Linked DNA regions of Homo sapiens. The protein of the gene in region 4 interacts with the protein of the main gene of each other region in a pairwise test. Each region holds a gene or a part of one and is shown on either strand. Other genes may lie near its edges.

What was found.
Region 1: the proteins of ECH1 (region 4) and TYSND1 come close enough for resonance energy transfer, tested with the Homo sapiens proteins (one large-scale study listed by BioGRID).
Region 2: the proteins of ECH1 (region 4) and PEX11G come close enough for resonance energy transfer, tested with the Homo sapiens proteins (one large-scale study listed by BioGRID).
Region 3: the proteins of ECH1 (region 4) and AMACR come close enough for resonance energy transfer, tested with the Homo sapiens proteins (one large-scale study listed by BioGRID).
Region 5: the proteins of ECH1 (region 4) and SERPINB9 interact in a two-hybrid assay, tested with the Homo sapiens proteins (one large-scale study listed by BioGRID and IntAct).
Region 6: the proteins of ECH1 (region 4) and HAO2 come close enough for resonance energy transfer, tested with the Homo sapiens proteins (one large-scale study listed by BioGRID).

What each region holds. Positions count from the first base shown.
Region 1 is NC_000010.11:70,137,481-70,140,590, forward strand, and holds the end of TYSND1 (peroxisomal leader peptide-processing protease), read right to left. Parts: intron 2,662-3,110; coding exon 2,444-2,661; 3' UTR 501-2,443; downstream 1-500. UniProt on the Homo sapiens protein: Peroxisomal protease that mediates both the removal of the leader peptide from proteins containing a PTS2 target sequence and processes several PTS1-containing proteins.
Region 2 is NC_000019.10:7,486,236-7,490,186, forward strand, and holds the start of PEX11G (peroxisomal membrane protein 11C), read right to left. Parts: upstream 2,801-3,951; 5' UTR 2,776-2,800; coding exon 2,716-2,775; intron 1-2,715. UniProt on the Homo sapiens protein: Promotes membrane protrusion and elongation on the peroxisomal surface.
Region 3 is NC_000005.10:34,005,251-34,009,421, forward strand, and holds the start of AMACR (alpha-methylacyl-CoA racemase), read right to left. Parts: upstream 2,801-4,171; 5' UTR 2,770-2,800; coding exon 2,523-2,769; intron 650-2,522; coding exon 506-649; intron 1-505. UniProt on the Homo sapiens protein: Catalyzes the interconversion of (R)- and (S)-stereoisomers of alpha-methyl-branched-chain fatty acyl-CoA esters.
Region 4 is NC_000019.10:38,825,295-38,828,794, forward strand, and holds part of ECH1 (delta(3,5)-Delta(2,4)-dienoyl-CoA isomerase, mitochondrial precursor), read right to left. Parts: intron 1-3,500. UniProt on the Homo sapiens protein: Isomerization of 3-trans,5-cis-dienoyl-CoA to 2-trans,4-trans-dienoyl-CoA.
Region 5 is NC_000006.12:2,890,040-2,893,309, forward strand, and holds part of SERPINB9 (serpin B9), read right to left. Parts: intron 1,950-3,270; coding exon 1,794-1,949; intron 532-1,793; coding exon 124-531; 3' UTR 1-123. UniProt on the Homo sapiens protein: Granzyme B inhibitor.
Region 6 is NC_000001.11:119,375,285-119,378,784, forward strand, and holds part of HAO2 (2-Hydroxyacid oxidase 2), read left to right. Parts: intron 1-3,500. UniProt on the Homo sapiens protein: Oxidase that catalyzes the oxidation of medium and long chain hydroxyacids such as 2-hydroxyhexadecanoate and 2-hydroxyoctanoate, to the correspondong 2-oxoacids.

The DNA.
Region 1 (3,110 bases), on a different chromosome or scaffold from region 4:
CTCTCACAGCAAAGTCAGACCTCAGATCTAGGATTCTGCTACCATTAACTTACTGTAGAACTTCTCTTAAACTAGCCATGACCTCTGGACCCATTCCTAATCTGTAAAGGGAGGAACAACCATCCCAGGAGTGTTCTGTGATTGCCCCGTGTTTTAGGAAAAACTCTCCTCAAATCGTGTTTTCCCTCTACTCTCATGCCATCACAATCATCAACACAGAAGACTTCAGTGACCAAATGTGTGTGGGGTTTCCCCACCAAAAGCAGTGGACATCAGCCGGGTGTCCTCTAATTCAGTTCCAACACTATCTACCCAGAGACATTGTCAGACCCCACAGGTTGAGGGTTCAGTCTCCAAGACTGCCCCCCTCAACCACACCAGGCACAAGTCTAGGCCTCCAGAACTTCTGACCAACTGGCTTCAAGTTGAGTTCCCACGACCTCCTTTTTGGGTTCAATTAATTTGCTAGAGTGGATCACAGAGCTCAGAGACACACTTACTTATGTTTACCGGTTTATTATAAAGGATATCGCAAAGGATACAGATGAAGAGATGCACATAGAGCAAGGAATGAGGGAAGGGGAAGGAGTGCAGAGCTTCCGTGCCCTCCCTGGGCACGCCACACTCCAGGAAGTGCCAGGTGTTCAGCTATCCAGAAGCTCTCTGAACCCTGTCCTCTTGGGTTTTTATGGAAGGTTCATGACATCAACATTCCTTCCCCTAGGATTGAGACCCTCTCATGGGAAGGTCTTTAGGACCCACTGTGAAAAAGGTGGGCGAACATTAGTGAAAGGATACCCAGAGGTCAGAGGCCTGTCCCAAGCCCTAACATACCCAGTATTCTAACAAAGACTGGAACAAGGACTATGAGAGTTACGAGTCAGGAATGCTGGATGAAAACCAATATATATCATAACACCACACCCAGCATTGGCACTCAGCACACAGGTGTTAGAAACAAGTTACTCCTAAGCACTCTTCCTGCGTGGCCTCCGCCCACAGCCGCCCCTCACAGGGCTTTCAGCCTGCCAGTAGAAATCACTCGAGGGCCCACACATGCAAGGCCCTGGGCACACGGCACAGTCCTGACTCAAAGAGTTGGCCTCAGCTCCTGGGGGCTGCCCTGGCCTCATTCACCCTTGAACTCCCCAACTGCCACCCACCTTAGGCATTCTTTAAGCATCTGCTGCCAGGTCAAGACCACCACCTTCCGGGACCTGCAAGCCCCACCCAGCTCTGACTGGCACATGACCAGCTATGAGGGCCAGTCTGGCAGGACCGTATCCCGTGAGCTCACACCCTGCTGAGAAAACAGCACAGAAAGGGTGTATTTCTGGGTTGGGCACAGTGGCTCACACCTGTAATCCCAGCACTTTGGGAAGCTGAGGCAGGAGGACTGCTTGAAACCAGAAGGCTGAAGCCAGCACGGGCAACAAAGCAATACCCCATTTCTACAAAAATAAAAAATTAGCCAGGCGTGGTGGTGCGCGACTGTAGTCCCAGCTATTCAGGAGGCTGAGGCAGGAGGTCTCCTGGAGCCCAGGAGTTTGAGGCTGCAGTGAGCTGTGATCGCAACACTGCACTCCAGCCTGGGTGAGAGAGCAAGACCACAGCTCTAAAGAAAAAAAAAAAAAAAAAAGGAAAGGGTGTGTTTCTTTGCCTGGTACTTGCCTATTCCCAGTTCAACTCCTGAAAAAAAGAAACAATTTGATATATAAATACAGAGGTTTTTCAATAGATCATGTTTATTCCCAAGCCCCAACCAGACATGTTCTACCCCTCAAGATCCCTGAGACCCAGGCTGTGGGCTGGAAAATGAAGGCACAGTGTCAAGAGCGCCCCTGTTGGCATATGAAGACCCAGGAGTGCTGACCTTCAGGGATCTGCCTGCACTGCCCATGGGCCTGGCACAGCAGGAGGCACTCCTGTTTCTGTCCCTTCTGTCTCTGGTCTTCAGAGCAAGGTTTCTGCTGAGATGCTAAGGAAGCTGAGTCCTTTGTCAGCCCTGACTCTGACTGAGAGGCAGACAGGAGCCAAGGCCCCATTGAAGCTCCAGGATGACGATGGCCCTCAGGGGAACAGACGCAAAACCAGGCACGGGCCTGCCTTCCAGCTGGAATCTACCTGTCAGGCCCAGAACTTCTGTGCAGTTGGAGTGGGCTCCCCAGAAGGAAAAACAATACAGCTGAGTCTAGTGCTAGGGGACAGAGAACTGGGGGCTCAAGAAAGCACCCCAAAACGGGCTGCCAGGTTAAGGATCCATGGGGCTGAAGAGAAGTTTGCCCCAGAGCCCAAAGCCCAGTCTGCAGTCAGTGGGTGGAGATGAGAGGCAGCCTGGGCCCCTGCAGGGGCTGGGCCCTGAATCCTGAGGCCACCGTCACCTCAACATCACTTCCTACAGCAGAAAAAGGTCACTCTTCTTTCCAAAGGTGGTAACACAGCCTCAGAGCTTGCTCCGCGGGGCCTCTGCCAGGGGCCGCTGCAACCGCCACACCACCCTGACTGGCTCAGCAGCGCGGTCCAGCTCACGGAGGCCACCTAGGTCTTGGGTCTGGCTGTACTGCTGCAGGGCCGGCTGGAGCACCGTGATGGGAATGCTGAAGTTCAGGTGGGGGTAGGTGGCCCCCGTATTATTGTCCCGGGTGTTGCTGGTGATTATGCCTGTTGAGGAGTCAGAGAGCAAAAGAGGATGTGAGCCAGGGGGCAGAAAGGCTGGAGAAGGGAGGAGGACCATCTCCACCCTGGAGCCCCCAGGGCCTGGTAGGGCTGGATACCACCCCACGTGGTGACAGACGCTGAGCTTCTAGACATGAACACCTGCTGCCCACACCCTTTCCTGGCTTTACGTTTTCTCCTTAACACTCTCAAAATCTAACACACTAGATAGTTCACTTATTTCACTTGTTATCTTTCTCTCGACCTAGTGTCAGCTCCATAAGGGCAGGACTTTGAGGTTTTGTTCATGCAGTCTCCCCAGTACCTGAAACAGTGCCTTGTGCCAAGTAGGCGCGCAACAAAGGCTTGTTGAATGAATGAATGAATGAATGAATGAATGAATGAATGAATGAATGAATCAGACCCACAGACATATTTTGTTTGGCCTGCTCGGT
Region 2 (3,951 bases), about 31 Mb from region 4:
TGTGCCTCAGCCTCCCCAGTAGCTGGGATTACAGGCGCCCACCACCACACCCTGCTAATTTTTATATTTTTTGTAGAGACAGGGTTTCACCAGGTTGGCTAGGCTGGTCTCAAACTCATAACCTCAGTGATCCACCTGCCTTAGCCTCCCAAAGTGCTGGGATTACAGGCATGAGCCACCGTGCCTGACCCAAGAGTTTGGAAGATTCTAAATCTACAAAGTGACAGTAAAAGCTGAAAGTTTAGGTGGGGCACAGTGGCTCACACCTGTAACCCCAGCACTTTGAGAAACCGAGGTGAGAGGATGCCTTCACACCAGGAGTTTGAGACCAGCCTGGGCAACATAGCAAGACCCTGTGTCTACCAAAAAAATTTTTTTTTTTGAGACGGAGTCTTGCTCCGTCACCTAGGCTGGAGTGCGGTGGCGCGATCTCGGCTCACTGCAAGCTCCACCTCCCGGGTTCATGCGATTCTCCTGCCTCAGCCTCCCGAGTAGCTGGGACTACAGGCACCCGCCACCAAGCCCACCTAATTTTTTGTATTTTTAGTAGAGATGGGGTTTCACCATTTTAGCCAGGATGGTCTTGATCTCCTGACCTCATGATCCACCCGCCTCGGCCTCCCAAAGTGCTGGGATTACAGGCGTAAGCCACCGCGCCTGGCTACCAAAAATTTTTTTAAGTTAACAGGGCATGGTGGTTACTTGGGAGGCTGATGCTGGAGGATCACTTGAGCCCAGGAGTTCCAGACTGTAGTGAGCTGTAATCGTGCTACTACACTCCAGCCTGGGCAACAGGGCGAGACCCTGTCTAAAAAAAGAAAAAGAAAAAGAAAAAAAAAGCTGGAAGTTTAAAAACATACTTGGAGGTGGGACAAATGAAGAAACATGACATCATTGATGTAACTGAAGGGCACAGCCTTTGGGAACAGATGTGACAGGAACAAAGAAAACAAAGCTCCTTACTTCCCACCTCCTAGGTCCTTCTTTTCCCAGGTGGCAGGAAGCCACAGCTAAAGTGTATATTTACATCTACCTGCCTGGACCAAAGCCTTTGGATGTGCTGAATGGTGGGCACAGGTGATCAGGCCTCAACCCAGTGAACAACAGGATAATTTGGTAGAATTACTTTAGAGAGAAAGAACCTACTCAGTAGGTGATGTGGAGCCTTCTGAAATAGGTCATCTTCACTACTCAGATCTTTTTTCTTTTGGAGACAGAGTCTTGCTCTGCTCCCCAGGCTCGAGTGCAAAGGTGTGAGCTCACTGCAACCTCTGCATCCCAGGTTCAAGCAATTCTCCCGCCTCAGCCTTCCAAGTAGCTGGGACTACAGGCACGCACCACCACATCCGGCTAATTTTTGTATTTTAGTAGAGACGAGGTTTCATCACTTTTCCCAGGCTGGTCTCAAACTCCTGAGCTCAGACAATCCACCCAGCTCAGCCTCCCAAAGTGCTAGGATCACAGGCGCGAGCCACCACGCCTGGCCTCCCTTATATCTTTATTTTACCTGCTTTTCAGAAATTGCTTGTTCCTGTTGTTTTATTTATTTTTACTTGTAATTCCTTTCCAGCCCCATTATAATGGCAAAACACTGCAATCTGAATGTTCAACTCGGGGGAGATTTGTTAACCCACCCCCCCAATCATAAGATATTTGAATGGAATCTAAATGCCTAGCCACCAGTACACCGCCTGGTACAACCTGAATGTCTACCTATAAGAGACTGGTGGGGACAAGCTAAGAGTCCAGACTCAGGGGCATGGATGGCATAACCTAAATGTTCAACCATATGGGACTTGATTGGAACTAAAAACTGTCCAGCCATAGGGAGAGTCTTGCAATATCCTAAATCCCCACATGAGATTGTTTGGGACAACCCAGGGACCAACTACAGTGGCCCGGTCAGATCCTAAATGTCCAAACATGGGAATCTGTTTGGTATGTAAACGTCCAGCCAGGCTGGGTTGGCAGAGACGATCTAAATGACCAACTGGGGTTTTGTTGGAACCCATCGCTGCTTAGGCATGGCAGGGCCCAGGCCATGGCGTGTTCTTTGGTCTAGGTTGGCTGAAACAACCTAAATGCCCAACTATAGGGAATCTGGTTGGAAGTGAATGTCCAGCCACAGGGGAGCCCTGCAACATCCCAAATCCCAACACGAGATTGTTCAGGACAACTTCAGTGGCCTGGTCGGATCCAAAACGTCCAAACACGGGAATCTGGCCAGTGTGTCAATGTCCAGACAGGTTGGGTTGGCAGAAACTATCTAAATGTCCAACGCTGGCCAGACGCGGTGGCTCACGCCTGTAATCCCAGCACTTTGGGAGGCCGAGGCAGGTGGATCGCTTGAGGCCAGGAGATCGAGACCATCCTGGCTAACACGATGAAACTCCGTCTCTACTAAAAATACAAAAAAATAGCAGGGAGTGGTGGCGGGCGCCTGTAGTCCCAGCTACTCGGGAGTGCTGAGGCAGGAGAATCGCTTGAACCCGGGAAGCGGAGGCTGCAGTGAGCAGAGATCGCACCACTGCACTCCAGCCAAAATAAATAAATACATAAATGTCCAATGCTAGGGCACCGCATTTGAGCCTAGCTCGGACGGGGCCTCTGCGACGGAGTATCCTGGGCGACCCCGTCCCCTCTCTGGCCCGTTTCCCAGTCTCTGAGCTTGGGCCAAACTCTAGGACCTCCGGCCCCGGTCCGCCCCTGCCTCACCAGGCGGTCCCGGCCCCTGTACGACTCCAGCGCCGACGCCAGGCCGCTCAGCGACGCCATGGCAACTCCGTGACGTCACCGCGACGTCGGCGCGCCGCGCCAGGGGGCGGGGCCAGGCCGGGGTACCGGGAGCGCCCCAAAGGCTTGCGCGCAGGCGCGGCCGCAGGCCTTTGTCCCCCTGACCGGCTTTTTGTCCGCTGTAGGGGAGGGACAGAGTTTGCAGAGGTGGGGCCGACACGTGTGTGCTCTCCAGGCCTGCAGACCCTGGATCATCCTCGGAGTTTGCTGCATTCTGCCCCACGGCGGTTTGGCCAACTACCCACGCACAAAAAAATATATTTCTAAGTTTAACCAACTACCCACACGCTCCAAAAATATTCCAAGCAAAACCACCAACCTGTTCGCAGTGGTTCAAGGAGAGATTTTCCTTTTTAGTTTTTGTGCTTCACCTTTTCTGCACTGTCTGCCTGCCCGTAGTGAGCAGGAATGACTGCTGTAATATCACAACAAGGCATCTTTCGACGTTAAGGAAAGACGTTATCTTTGGACGTTAAGAATTGTTCTAGAATACATAAATAAAAAATAAAAATGCACAATTCAGTGACATTAGTACATGCACATGTTGGACAACCATCACCCCTTGCTAGTTTCGGGGTATTTTTATCACCCCCAAGAGAGACCCCCGTAGGAGACCAGCATATGCCCCTCTGAAATATGCGACCTTGGTGTAGGATTATTTTGAGCTGAGATCAATGAAGCTGATACCGGAAAAGCTCTCTGTTCTTCCCTGATTTGCCTCAAAGCAGGACCTAAAGGTACAAAGGTGCCCTCCTCCCCTCTCTACCAGGAAGGACAAAGGTTGATCACCAGGGACACCTTTAGACTCTTGTCTGGAGACGTCTTTTTTTTTTTTTTCTTTTTTTTTGAGACGGAGTCTTGCTCTGTCCCCAAAGCTAGAGTGCAGTAGCGCCATCTCTGCTCACTGCGTCCTCCGCTTCCCTGGTTCAAGCGATTCTCGTGCCTCAGCTTCCCAAGTAGCTGGGATCACAGCTGTGCACCACTGTGCCCGGCTAATTTTTGTATTTTTGGTAGAGTCGGGGTTTCACCACGTTGGCCAGGCTGTTCTCAAATTCCTGGCCTCAAGTGATCCGCCCGCCTCGGCCTCCCAAAGTGCTGGGATTACAAGCGTGAGCCACCGCACCCGGCCTCAATGTCCTTTTCCTTCGTCTTGTCACT
Region 3 (4,171 bases), on a different chromosome or scaffold from region 4:
ACATGTCGTCACAGGCAAAAACTCTAATAAAGTGATATTAGGACCTGAAAACCATGGGCTTTTTTTAGTGCTCATAGAAGTCTGAAACAATGACTCAGGCAATGATTCTCAATATGGTGGGTGGAGATTTCGGGGTCCGGGGGAGAAGTAGCTGTCAGAATCTAACTATGTCAACATTTTCAAACCACAGAGCAACCATCCGTAGTACCCAGTAAGCCTCTTAATTCCTAGCAGGGGTTTGTCTGAGAATTGACTCAACAAATGTAGTAAATAAATGATAGTAGTGGGCATGTATTAACCTTCCAACCTGTTAAGGGATGGGGTGAGGGAAGGTTGAGAATGATTGTTTCAAGACTCAAACCGATCCATTTTGAACACCCATGCTCTCTTGATTGATTCTGATAAATGTTTAAATTTTTACCTTTACAAATTATTGTTAATCAACATACCTGTAGATCTTGATGGAATAAATTAAAAGTGTAGACTAAATTTTTTTTCAACATACCTGACAAAGCCAAATAGTTGATATCGTGGCCAGCTAACCGGCAGAAGCTTCCTGACTGGCCAAATCCACTCAGCCTGGCATAAATAAGCCTTGGATTTTCCCGCTGCAGAATCTCTGGGCCCAGCTGGAGTTTCTCCATGACACCTTAAGAGAAAAGTAACGATCTTCTTAAGAGAGTATGAATTGAGGATGGAGATAATCCCTTCTCTGAGACAAACATAAAATAGCACCATTGCAAGTAATATTAATAACATTTGCTGTAGGCTAATGGCATGTTTACAGCAGTTAAGGACTCAAAGAGTGAAGCCACCATTTCTGGAATGTGTGGCTTCTTCCCAGGATGTAATTTCTCCCAGTACATCTCTGTTTCCCTCTAGGTTTATCCAAGCCTATTTATTCAATCCCCAGAGCAGGGTCTCATCCCTTTAGTAAATCCCTTTTCTCTTTTTCTATACCGCATCAGTGTTTACCACATCCCACCTTAGCTGCACTTGCTTGTACATGCATACACTTATCTTCCCTATCAGCTCATGAGCTCCTCCTGCAGAATTTACACCTGATGTTTCCACAGGCGCTAAAGTGCCTAGCATCAGTACCTTCACGAAAAAGTTTAGCACCCATCTGTAGAAAGAGTGGTTAGTGACAATAGCACCTGAGAGTTTTTAAGCTATCAACAAGTATAGTATTTATAGCACAAACCCCAGGTAACCAGCACCTGAAATTTCCTGGGATTAAAAGTAATCAAAATTACATAATAAACTCACTATCTTTACCTTCCTAAGGCTAAAATAAATCACAGAAAACCTCTAGTCATCTACCTAAACACCAGTCACAACTCCTCACCCGGAGGCTATATCCGTATTCCCAGCCGACCTTCCTCCTAATTACAAGACCTTGGACAAGCCTCCCTCATCTTAAATGGAGCATTCTTAAATTATTACATAATCTTAATTATTAAATCATTATTGTTACAAGCCTCAAATACAGCTGTGAGGGTTAAATGAGTTAACGCATTTAAATAAGCCGGCTGTGCCGTAGGCATTCATTCATTCACCATTTACCGATTTCCCACTATAGACCAGGCAATGCTTTGGATTTCTACTTGAACAAAGTTATTCTGGCAGCTGTCTGAGAATCCACTGGAGTGATACCAGCCCCAAACACCAGTTTTTAAAAGGCTGTCACACCAGTGTCAAGGCAGTTGCAGCAGGTATGGAGAGAAATAGTCCGAGTGGGCTAAGGAGCAAAATGACTGTATTGATGATCATTGAAATTGGATGTGAAAGGAAGACTGGAGTCCATGATGAAGTACAAGTTTGAGATTCAGGCATTCACTGAAATAAATAATACAGAAGGTGGAGATGCTGTTTTAGAAGGAAGAAGGAAAGGCTCATTTTGGGATTTGTGGAAGCTGCCTGGCGGGCAGCCTTGACGGCGATGCCCAGGACCTGTGTATGCCAGCGTCTGCCGCTCTGAAAGGGGGAAGTCTACAAAAAGGTGAAAATGATGGGAATGGGTAACTGGGCTTCAGGGAGCAGATGCTGAGACTTAGAACGCCAGCATTTCAGGCAGGGAGGAGCGTTAGCCTGGGCCCGTGGATGGCTTGAGGGTACAGCACTCCAAAACGGTAGCCGAATGACCGCCTATATGCAGTTTTCCAGGAAGGGAATCCTATGGCTTTCATTAGATTCTCACAGGGTTCAAGACCCTCAATTAATTAAGAAAGGCAAATACGGAACGTTTCTTAGAAAAAAAAGGAGGAATTTGGGAAGGAGTCAGAGAGGCAAAAGGAGAAACCGGGCAACAGCAGTATCTCAGAACCCAAGTTTTGGACAATCCAGTTTGGGAAGAATGATCACTAACAATACCCTAGGAGGCAAAAATCTGGAAGGCTGGGGCCGACAAGGGTTCTTGCGGCAACAGGGCAAAGGTGTGGCGGGTGCAGCCTCGATCGAACGGCCAGGCCCCTCCCCTCCGCGGGAACTTCCCGAGAGCAGCCCGCGGGGCCCGGGCTCACCGCGGCGGAAGGGCTCCAGCAGCACATCCGACCGCTTGCACAGACGCCGCAGCACGGCGGCTCCCCGCGGCTGCTTCAGGTCCAGCACTAGCGAGCGCTTGCCCCGGCCCAAGCGGCTCACGTCGTAGCGGGAGCCGGGCCGGTCCACGCGTACCACACGCGCCCCGAAGTCAGCCAGGACCATAGCACAGAACGGGCCCGGGGCCAGGCCGGACAGCTCCACGACCGAGATGCCCTGCAGTGCCATGGCGCTTCCCAGTGCCCCGCTGAAGGAAACTGAGCAGCCCTTAGCCCCAGCCCAGCAGCCTGCAAGAAGCCCTCCCAATCCCCGGCGCCACGCCCCCAGCCGCGGCGCCGCGCCCCAAAGGCACCACCCCCGTCCCTCTTTTGCGGGCCTGCGCAAGCCCGCGGAGTCTGCGCACTGGGCGCTTCCCCACCCCCGGCCTCCCGGGACCGCCAGTGCCAAATGCAGTAGGTTGCTTTCCTTTTTGTGCAACCTAAATTCCTGAGTCTTAAATTGCAGGGACTGACCTTTGGAGCTCCTGCCTGTTACCGTCCTCTCTGGACGCTTTTATTGTACCAGGGCGATCCCCAGCCCAACTGTACCATTCGAGTCCCTACTCCTGCCTTGCTCTAGGGAAATAAAATAACGTAAACACGTAAGAACAATGCGAAAGCGTTTTCTTCCCTAGGCTGCAGATTGTCTTCTTCACCGCCCCTGCTTAGCTAGCTAGCTAGCTGGGAATTTAATCCAGAAACGGCTTGCGATACCTCCTAGATGCACTCGTTTTGAGTTACAAACTCCGCGGATTACATGTCTTTTTAAAAAAGTTTAGACTACACTAGGAAAATTATTTTAGTATCAGAAGAATATCAGGGGTGTAGTACTCATCAGAGCTAAATGAGAGCGCTTTAAAAATGTTAGTTTGTCTTCCGCCATTTCTACAGAAAGCTGCAATTTCAGGTTTTCAACCTAATAGGTGATATTTAAGAAAAAAAAAAAGCAATCGCAAATAGCCCCACTGCTTTTACAAATCATTTTTTCTCTTCTAGGTATAGCCTGTCAGGTGGCCTAATGTAATTTTTGACATCTCTAGGAATTTTAATAGAACCAGAAATGGGTGCCAGAGATATGCCTGCACTAATCTTAAGTGGGGATTTATGTATTTCTCAAGCAAGTGATTAAAGCAAAACTAGGCACGATTGAAATCAAGATCTTTTAGGCAAGAAAGTCATGATGAGTTTTAGAATTATTTTAGGACTCTGTGGCTTTCTCTTCATAGAAATAGAAAAAAAAATTGTATAAAACCACAAAAGGTCCTGAATAGCCAAAGCAACACTGAACAAAAAGAACAAAGCAGGAAGCAACACACTACCAGAATTCAAATTATACTACCAAGGTGTAGTAACCAAAACAGCATTCTATTGGCATAAAATAGACACAAAGACCAATGGAACAGAATAAAGAACCCCAAAATAAATCCATATATTTACAGCCAGCTGATTATCAATAAAAACACCAAGAACATATATTAAGGACATTCTATTCAATAAGTAGTGCTGGAAAAACTGGAAATCCATATGCAGAAGAATGAAACTAGACCCCTATCCCTCACCATACACAAAAATCAACTCAGAATGGATTAAAA
Region 4 (3,500 bases):
CTGTGTTCTAGAAGGACTAAGGAGAATTAGAAAAAGCCCATGAATTATTCAATGATGTCCACCATAACTCAGGGAAAGGAAGAAAATCCTTCTGCCTTCCTCGAGCAGCTATAGGAGGCCTTAAGAAAATATACTCCCCGGTCACCCGAATCACTCAAGGGTCAATTGATTCTAAAAGATAAGTTTATTATCCAATCAGCCGCAGATATCAGGAGAAAGCTCCAAAAGCAAGCCCTGGGCCCTGAACAAAATTTGGAGGCATTATCAAAACCTGGCAACCTCAGTGTTCTATAATAGGGACCAAGAGGAACAGGCCCAAAAGGAAAAGTGAGATTGGAGAAAGGCCGCAGCCTTAGTTATGGCCCTCAGACTAACAAACCTTAGTGGTTCAGAGAGGACAGATAGTAGAGGCCAATCACCCGGTAGGGCTTGTTATCATGCGGTTTACTAGGACACTTTAAAAAAGATTGTCCAATGAGAAACAAGCTGCCCCCTCGTCCATGTCCACTATGCCGAGGCAATCACTGGAAGGTGCACTGCCCCAGCGGACGAAGGTTCCCTAGGTCAGAAGCCCCCAACCAGATGATCCAACAACAGGACAGAGGGTGCCCGGGGCAAGCGCCAGCTCATGTCATCACCCTCACTGAGCCCCGGGTACGTTTAACCATTGAGGGCCAGGAAACTGACTTCCTCCTGGACACTGGCGCGGCCTTCTCAGTGTTAATCTCCTGTCCTGGACGACTGTCCTCAAGGTCTGTTACCATCCGATGAATCCTGGGACAGCCTGTAACCAGGTATTTCTCCCACCTCTCAGTTGTAATTGGGAGACTTTGCTCTTTTCACATGCCTTTCTTATTATGCCTGAAAGTTCCACACCCTTATTAGGCAGGGACATATTAGCCAAGGCTGGAGCTATTATCTACATCAATATGGGGAACAAGTTACCCATTTGTTGTCCCCCTACTTGTGGAGGGAATCAACCCTGAAGTCTGGGCATTGGAAGGACAATTTGGAAGGGCAAAAAATGCCCGCCCATTACAAATCAGGTTAAAAGATCCCACTGCTTTTCCTTATCAAAGGCAATATCCCTTAAAGCCTGAAGCTCATAAACGATTACAGAATATTGTTAAACATTTAAAAGCTCCAGGCTTAGTAAGGAAATGCAGCAGTCCCTACAACACCCCAATTCTAGGAGTACAAAAACTAAATGGTCAGTGGAGACTAGTGCAAGATCTTAGACTCATCAATGAGGCAGTAATTTCTCTATATCCAGCTGTAACCAACACCTATACCCTGCTCTCTCAAATAACAGAGGCAGCAGAATGGTTCACAGTTCTAGACCTCAAGGATGCCTTCTTCTGTATTCCCCTACACTCTGACTCCCAGTTTCTCTTTGCCTTTGAGGATCCCACAGACCACACGTCCCAAATTATGTGGACGGTCTTGCCCCAAGGGTTTAGGGATAGGCCTCATCTGTTTGGTCAGGCACTGGCCCAAGATCTAGGCCACTTCTCAAGTCCAGGCACTCTGGTCCTTCAATATATGGATGATTTACTTTTGGCTCCCAGTTCAGAAGCCTCGAGCCAGCAGGCTACTCTAGATCTCTTGAACTTTCTCGCTAATCAAGGGTACAAGGTGTCTAGGTCAAAGGCCCAGCTTTGCCTACAGCAGGTCAAATATCTAGGCCTAATCTTAGCCAGAGGGACCAGGGCCCTCAGCAAGGATGGAGAGGGAGGACAGGGAGGAGAGGGAGAAGGAGGGGAAGGAGGGGAAGGAGGAAGGGAGGAGAGGGAGGGAGGGGAAGGAGGAAGGGAGGAGAGGGAGGGAGGGGAGGGAGAAAGGGGAGGGAAAGAAAGAAAGGGACCTGGGAATATGTTAATGGACAAAACAGAAAGAAATAGTTTACTGTCTGTCTTCCCCACTGAGTTGGGAACGCCATGACAACAGGGCCTGGGACTGTCCTAGTCAAGACTGGGTTCCCAGCACCAGGCTCTGGGCCCTGTGCAGAAATCAGTGTATGAAATATTTTGCTTCTGGTTCAGTCCTAAAGGGCCAACCCTCCCACGGACAACTACATACGCTGGCTGGACAAGAAACAAACAATTATCTGAAGGCACTGGGCAGATTCTGGAGGGAGTGACCACTTAGGAGAGTGGCAGAACACTCTCTCGGTGTTTTTGAAAATGGTTTTGAAAACTTTCAGCCTGAGGGCAGACTGAAATTGTGCTTGAAGAGCCACAGGATAGAGTCCAAGGTGACCAAAGCTGCCGGGAAGTGAGGGGGGATATTCCAAAGAGGGGAGAGCCAGAGCGAGGAGTCCCGAATTCTGTGTATCAACTCTGCCCTAATCTCTTGCTGGGAGATGTATGTTTTTGTTGTTGTTTTTGTTTTGAGATGGGTTCTTGCACTGTCACCCAGGCTGGGTGCAGTGGCACGACCACAGCTCACTGCAGTTTTGACCTCCCTGGTTCGAGCCATCCTCCCACCTCAGCCTCCAGAGTAGCTGGGAGTGTGGTCATTCATCACACCCAGCTAATTTTTGTTAGAGACAAGGTCTCAGTGTGTTGCCCTGGCTGAAGATTAGTTTTTAAATCTTTTGCTGGGGGTGCATGTATGGTCTGTAAATCAGCAAGAAGCCAGGCACAGTGGTTCACGCTTGTAGTCCCAGCACATTGGGAGGCCGAGTCAGGAGGATCGCTTGAGTTCAAGAGTTGAAGACCAGACTGGGCAACATAGCAAGACCTCATCTCTACAAAAAAATAAAAATAAAAACAGAAAAACCAAAAAAACTAATTCCAACTAAGCTACCAAAACACGAAACTCAACACTCTTTGGAACTATATGATAGAATCCAGAGTATCCACATCTTATTCCTATATCCCAATATCCAAGAAACAATCCAAACTAACTCAAAATACAAAGAAACAGGAAAGTGAAGCCGTTTTCTTTTTTTTGAGACAGAGTCTCGCTCTTGTCACCAAGGCTGGAGTGCAATGGCGTGATGTAGGCTCACTGCAACCTCTGCCTCCTGGGTTCAAGCGATTCTCCTGCCTCAGGCTCTCCAGCAGCTGGGATTACAGGCATGCACCACCACGCCGGGAAAATTTTTGTATTTTTAGTACAGACGGGGTTTCACCATGTTGGCCAGGCTAGTCTTGAACTCCTGACCTCAAGTGATCCACCCACCTCAGCTTCCCAAAGTGCTGGGATTACAGGCATGAGCCACTGAGCCCAGCCTGCCATTTCCAAGCGAAAAGATGATAAGGAGACTGACCCCAAGATGACCCAGATGTTGAGATTAGAAGATAAGGAGTTTTTGTTTTGTTTTTATTTTGTTTTTAGAGGGAGTCTCGCTATGTCACCCAGGCTGGAGTGCAGTGGCGCCATCTCGGCTCACTGCAACCTCTGCCTCCCAGGTTCACGCCATTCTCCTGCCTCAGCCTCCCGAGTAGCTGGGACTAAAGGTGCCCGCCACCATGCCTGGCTAATATTCTTTTTTT
Region 5 (3,270 bases), on a different chromosome or scaffold from region 4:
GACAGGTAAAGAATCTGCCCTCATCTTTGCACTTGGCTTTCTAGGCCCATCCTCTTGGAGCTGTAGTGGGGATCTGGGGACACAGGAAGAGGGAAATGGCCGAGTGCACGGTAAGTGCACCCTTTATGGCGATGAGAACCTGCCACAGAACAGAATGCTGTTGGCTCTGTTGTGCCTGATGAAGAAAAGGAAAGGGTGGTCAGCACAGAACCTGGGGCCAGATTCCATGCAGCACTCTGCAACTACAAAGCAGCTCGACGCTGCCGCTGCCTCGGTGCCTTCTTCATTCACCTCCACAAAACTCTTGTGCACGAACTTGGACAGACACAGGTCTCTCTCCGCTGACATTGCCGACAAGTCAGCCTTGCCCTGTTGGAAGGCATCAACAATTCCCAAATGCCGAAGCACAGATTCCATGTCATAATCCTCTTGTAGTTTAAATTTTGGAAGGAGAACTTCAACCTCAGTACTCTTCATACAGTCTGGCTTGGTCCAGGCTGTGAGTTTCTCAAAAGTGAGACTTTTTTCCACCTGAAAGACCAGAATTAGACTTTAAGATTCCGACTTCAGTGCACATGTACAAGCGCACAGGCACTCACAGTTCCCTTCCTCCCCTTGCACGTAGGTGTTGTTTGTTCACATAGGATCAGTGGCCCCTTCATCTGCCAGAAGCTTGTGAGCACTCTTACTTGTCCTATGTCCCATGTGCCACTTCCTTGACAAGGGGGAGAGACACCAAGCAGTCAGAGGCAGGAAGGCTGTGGCTGTCCTCTCCTTATCCAACAACTCCAGAGACATCTTGTATTGTGACAAGTGTCAATGCCCAGGCGACTGTGTTTTTTTTTCAAACATAGTCTTTTTAAAGACAACAAACCATTGCTAGTAAAGAAAAGGATTGGAAACGAAAGGGCTCTCAGTGTGAGCCACTCCAACAGGATTATCTGTCCCAGGTGAGATTCTGCATAGTTTCCGGAGCAGAGAGGTTACCAGAGGATTATCTGCCCCAGAGAGATTCTGCATAGTTTCCGGAGCATAGTTTCAGGAAGGTGGGCAGAGGGAGAGCCAATGGCTGCTGCGCACACAGACCTCTTAAGTCATGGGGTCCCACTGCCTGCCATTTGCCATGGTTGACTCTCTCACCCTGGAGATCCATGCTGAAAGGAAGCCGAGTGCCTGGATGTGCCCTCAGAGGCTGCCTCTGGTCCCACCCTCTGAGAACTGGACTTCACACCTCCCTGGATGCCCCCTCCCAGCCTTGTTAGGTCAAAGTTAAGACTTCCTCATTCTCTATTTCAGGTTCCTAGACTTTAAAAGCATAATGCTAAGAATGATGATTGTAATAATGGATCACATTTGTAGAGCATTTACTAGTTGCCAGGCAATGTGGTAAGCTTGTTACCTGAATTACCCACATTTTATCCTCATCATAACTCTAGGAGGCAATAACCCCGAGCAGTCATTTATGCTTTTAGAGTTAAAAGTCTGCCATTCATCAAACTAGCAGGATTTTTATAAGCTTCCTCCTACCTGATTTATTTTAAAAGGCATTTTAACCGCCGCCCACTCCTTCTAGCGATGAAAAAACAGAGGACTGAGATGTGTAGTTTGGCAGATCACGCAGACAATATTGGGAAAAGTCAGCCTTGAACAAAAGTTCGATCCCAACGCCAAGTGCCTGCACAGTGTGCGTCTGCCGCATCGCCAACTCAGAAGGTGAATATGAGAGGTGGAAGTGGCACTCGAGTTCTGCCCGCAAAGGTGTCCCTGGGTTCTTCCCGCAGCCCGGGTCTTACCGTGCTGAGCTCCACGCCGTCGTCAGGCAGCAGCACCAGCAGGCTCAGCTCCTTCCTGGCGTAGGGCAGCTCCAGCAGCTGCGCGCGCACCTCGCCCACGTGGGCGAGCTTAAACGTGGCCTCCTGATACATCATCTGCACTGGCCTTTGCTCCTCCTGGGGGAAGGATTATTGAAAGACGCAATTAAAACTTTCAAAAGAGCTGCAGTTGCCTCCAAGAGTGTTTTCAGCACCTGTGATGGAAACCGCCACATTCATGCCCCAGTTAACACTAAAAAAAAAAAAAAAAAAAAAAAAAAAAAAAGTCAACCAGTTCCTTCCTATCTTCATTGCAAGCAGACACAGTACCACCCTGGGAAAGGTTTTCTTCTGCAAAATAAAATGTGATACCCTACATTTTCCAGAGGAGAAAGATGTTTCTCATTTAAATTGTGCTCAGCAAATAGATCTAAGAAAGCAATATAATCAAATGAAATTAAATACAAATTTGTTTTGATTTAATTAGAAAAAAATGTGTATTGTTTTTCCTATTTATCCAACCCAACATATGAGAAAAAAAATCATAAAGTGGGATGAAACTTATAGTTCCACAACAGCATGACAGGGAGTATAAATGGATACACTCTCTCAGAAAGAGTAACGACCTACATATGTAGTAATGTATTTTAACCCAATCTTTTCAATTCTGATACTCTAATGAAATAACTTTTTTAAAATACAGAAGAGGCATAAGCACATAGAAGCTCAGCAAAGTATTACATTTATTAACGTAATACTTTAAAAAATTGATACAGATCATTTATTATAAAAATTAAAATAGTTCTAAAACCAGGGTTAGAATTCTCCTCCTCCCACCCTTTGCAACTAGAGAACTAATTTTTTTAAGTTAAAGTACACCTTACAAAAAATGCAGGAGGGTTACCTGCTTTTGTTTTTTAATTACATTAAAATAGTATCTTTTTAGGGGCTGGAAGATTTGGCAAATTATTCTAATGCCTGCCTTAATTAAGTTTTACTTCAATGTCAAAACTAAGGTCTTTGTCATGAAGTTTTAATATTAAAAAGCTGTAAATACTGAATTAATGATAATTAGTTAACAATTCAAATCAAAACTTACTTTAATTTTAAAAATAACTAATTAAAGACACATGTTTTCACCTTCTCTCCCTCTACCCTGCCCTATACTGCCTCTCACTCCCACATATCACACTACCTTAACACTTTTTTTTTTTTTTTTTTGCTTTCTAGCCAAGTAAATTGGGCTTATAGGAAGATCTTTAGTTTCCAAAACTAGGTGGCAGCAATGGTTTATGAGAAATTATCAAAGGCAGTTAAGAGCAGTGATAAAACACTACATATATATATATATATTATATATACGTATATATAATATATATATGCAGCAAATATCTTTTACTCCTTCCGTTTTTTTCTACTGAGTTAAGAAATTCATTCAGAAATACTTTAAGTTTCAAAT
Region 6 (3,500 bases), on a different chromosome or scaffold from region 4:
AAGTATATACAAATATATTGTGCTAAGTTCTTCACTTCCAAATTTAGGAAAAGCTTTGAACAAGGAAGGTATCCTTTTCTTTAATTATAAACCTTATATTAAACCTCTAACCAAAATAATAGACTACTAAGATTTACATATATTATATTAAAAATATATAATTGTATTTTTCAACCTACAAAATTATCTCGAGTTCAATATGGCAAGTCATTTATGAGAACCAACTATTGTGTTCTTTACCTGAAATTGAAAATGAGAATGTCTATCTTTAGAAGCTACCAGGACACATGAGTTCAGAACCATCTCTCATAATAACTTACTACCTGATTGTATTAGTCCATTTTCATAGTGCTATGAAGAAATACCTGAGACTGGGTAACTTATAAAGAAAAAAAGGTTTAATGGACTCCCAGTTCCACATAGCTGAAGGGGCCTCACAATTATGGCAGAAGGCAAAGGAGGAGCAAAGGCAAGTCTTACATGGTGGCAGGCAAGAGAGTGTGTGCAGGGGAACTGCCCTTTATAAGACCATCGGATCTCATGAGACTTTTTCACTATCATGAGAACAGCATGGTGAAACCCGCTCCCCCATGATTCAATTACCTCCCACCAGGACCCTCCTATGACATGTGGGGATTATGGGAGCTAAAATTCAAGATGAGGTTTGGTTGGGGACACAGCCAAACCATATCACTCCACTCCTGGCCCCTCACAAATCTCATGTCCTCACATTTCAAAACCAATCATGCCTTCCCAACAGTTCCTCAAAGTCATAACTAATTTCAGCATTAACTCAAAAATTCACAGTCCAAAGTCTCATCTGAGACAAGGCAAGTCCCTTCTACCTATGAGCCTGTAAAATCAAAAGCAAGTTAGTTACTTCCTAGATACAATGGGGATACAGGCATTGGGTAAATACCGCCATTCCAAATGGGAGAAATTAGACAAATCAAAGGTGCTACGGCCCCATGCAAGTCTAAAATCCAGCAGAGCAGTCAAATCTTAAAGCTCCAAAATGATCTTTTTGACTCCATATCTCACATCCAGGTCACACTGATGCAAGAGGTGGGTTCCCATGGTCTTGGGCAGCTCTGCCTCTGTGGCTTTTCAGGGTACAGCCTCTCTTCTGGCTGCTTCCACAGGCTAATGTTGAGTGTCTGTGGCTTTTCCACGTGCACAGTGCAAGCTGTCAGTGGATCTACCATTCTGGAGTCTGGAGGATGATGGCCCTCTTCTCACAGCTCCACTAGGCAGTGCCCCAGTGGGGACTCTGTGTGAAGGCTCCAACCCTACATTTTCCTGCTGCACTGTCCTAGCAGAGGTTCTCCATTAGGGCTCTGCCCCTTTAAGCAGATTTCTGCCTGGACATCCAAGTGTTTCTATACATCCTCTGAAATCTAGGCAGAACTTCCCAAATCTCAGTTCTTATCTTCTGCACATCCACATGCCCAACACCATGTGGAAGCTGCCAAGCTTTGAGGCTTGCACCCTCTGAAGCTACAATCTGAGCTGTACTTTGGCCCCTTTTAGCCATGGCTGGAACACAGGGCAACCAGTCCTGAGACTGCACAAAGCAGCAAGGCCCTGGTGCCCTGCATCTTAGGCCTACAGTCCTATGATGGGAGGGTCTGCAGAGAAGATGTCTGATATGCCCTGGAATCATTTTCCCCATTGTCTTGGCAATTAACATTTGGCTCCTCGTTACATATGCAAATTTCTGCAGCCAGCTTGAATTTCTCCTCAGAAAATTGGTTTTTCTTTTCTATCATCACATCATCAGGCTGCAAATTTTCCAGACTTTTATTATGCTCTGCTCCCCTTTTAAAAATAAGTTTCAATTTTAAACCATATATTTTTGAATACATAAAACTGAATGCTGTTAACAGCCCCCAAGTCACCTCTTGAATGCTTTGCTGCTTAGAAATTTCTTCTGCCAGATACTCTAAATCATCTTTCTCAAGTTCAAAGTTCCACAGATCTCTAAGGGAGGGGCAAAATACTGCCAGTCTCCTTACTAAAACATAGCAAGAGTCACCTTCATTCTAGTTGCCAACAAGTTCCTCATCTCCATCTGAGACCACCTCAGCCTGGACTTCATTGTCCATATTACTATCAAAATTTTAGTCAAAGCCATTCAAGATGTCTCTAGGAAGTTCCAAACTTTCCCACATCTTCCTGTCTTCTTCTAAGCCCTCCAAACTGTTCCAACCTCTGCCTATTATTCAGTTCCAAAGTCACTTCCACATTTTCGGGTATCTTTATAGCAGCGTCCCACTACCAGGTACCAATTTACTGTATTAGTCCATTTTCATACTGTAAAAGAAATACTTCAGACTAGATAATTTATAAAGAAAAACAGGCTTAATGGACTTCCAGTTCCACATGGTTGGGGAGGCCTCACAATCATGGTGAAAGGTGAAGGAGGAGCAAAGGCATGTTTTAAATGGCAGCAGGTAAGAGAGCACATGCAGGGAACTGCCCTTTATAAAACCATCAGCTCGGCCAGGCATGGTGGCTCATGGCTGTAATCCCAGCACTTTGGGAGGCCAAGGTGGGTGGATCACCTGAGGTCAGGAGTTTGAGACCAGCCTGGCCAACATGGTGAAACCCCGTTTCTACTAAAAATACAAAAATGAGCTGGGTGTGGTGGCACATGCCTGTAATTCCAGCTACTCAGGAGGCTGAGGCAGAAGAATTGCTTGAACTGGGGAGACAGAAGTTACAGTGAGCTGAGATCATGCTAAGCTTTACATACATTATAAAAAGAAAAAAATGCATAATTGTATTTTTAAACCTAGAAAATTCTCTTAAATATAGCAAGCAATTTATGAGAACCAACTATTTTGTTCTTTACGTTAAATTGAAAATAGAGAATGTCTATCTTTAGAAGCTACCAGAACACATGAGTCCAGAACCAACTGCACTCCAGCCTGGGCGACAGAGTGAGACTCCATCTCAAAATAAATAAATAAATAAACCCATCAGATCTCATGAGACTCATTCACTCTCACAAGAACAGCACTGGAAAATCCAGCCCCATGATTCAATTACCTCCCACCAGGCCCCTCCCATGACATGTGGGGATTATAGGAGCTATAATTCAAGAAGATATTTGGGTGGGGAAACAGCCAAACCATATCACTGATCTTTCACAAGTTATTTTATTTCTGAGGCCTCAGTCTCTTTAAATGCAAAGTAGGAAGACTAATACCTTCTCTGTCTTCTTCACAGGGACACTGAGAAAAAGCTGTAGATAGAAAAGAGTCTAAGGAAAAATTAGAAGAGGTATCGAAATGAGATAAAATAGTGTTTGTTATATATAAGATGCTAGGGTTGATTCTTTATGTCCAAGCAGCTTTCAAATCACATAACTGACACTATTCTAGACACATGACTCTGAGTGAGCATGAGCCATTTCTTCTGGATTAGACATAATGTTTGTGGCATTTATATGCTAGAATTGTGTAGAACAGCCTTTCTATGAGTGTGTAATGTATAGG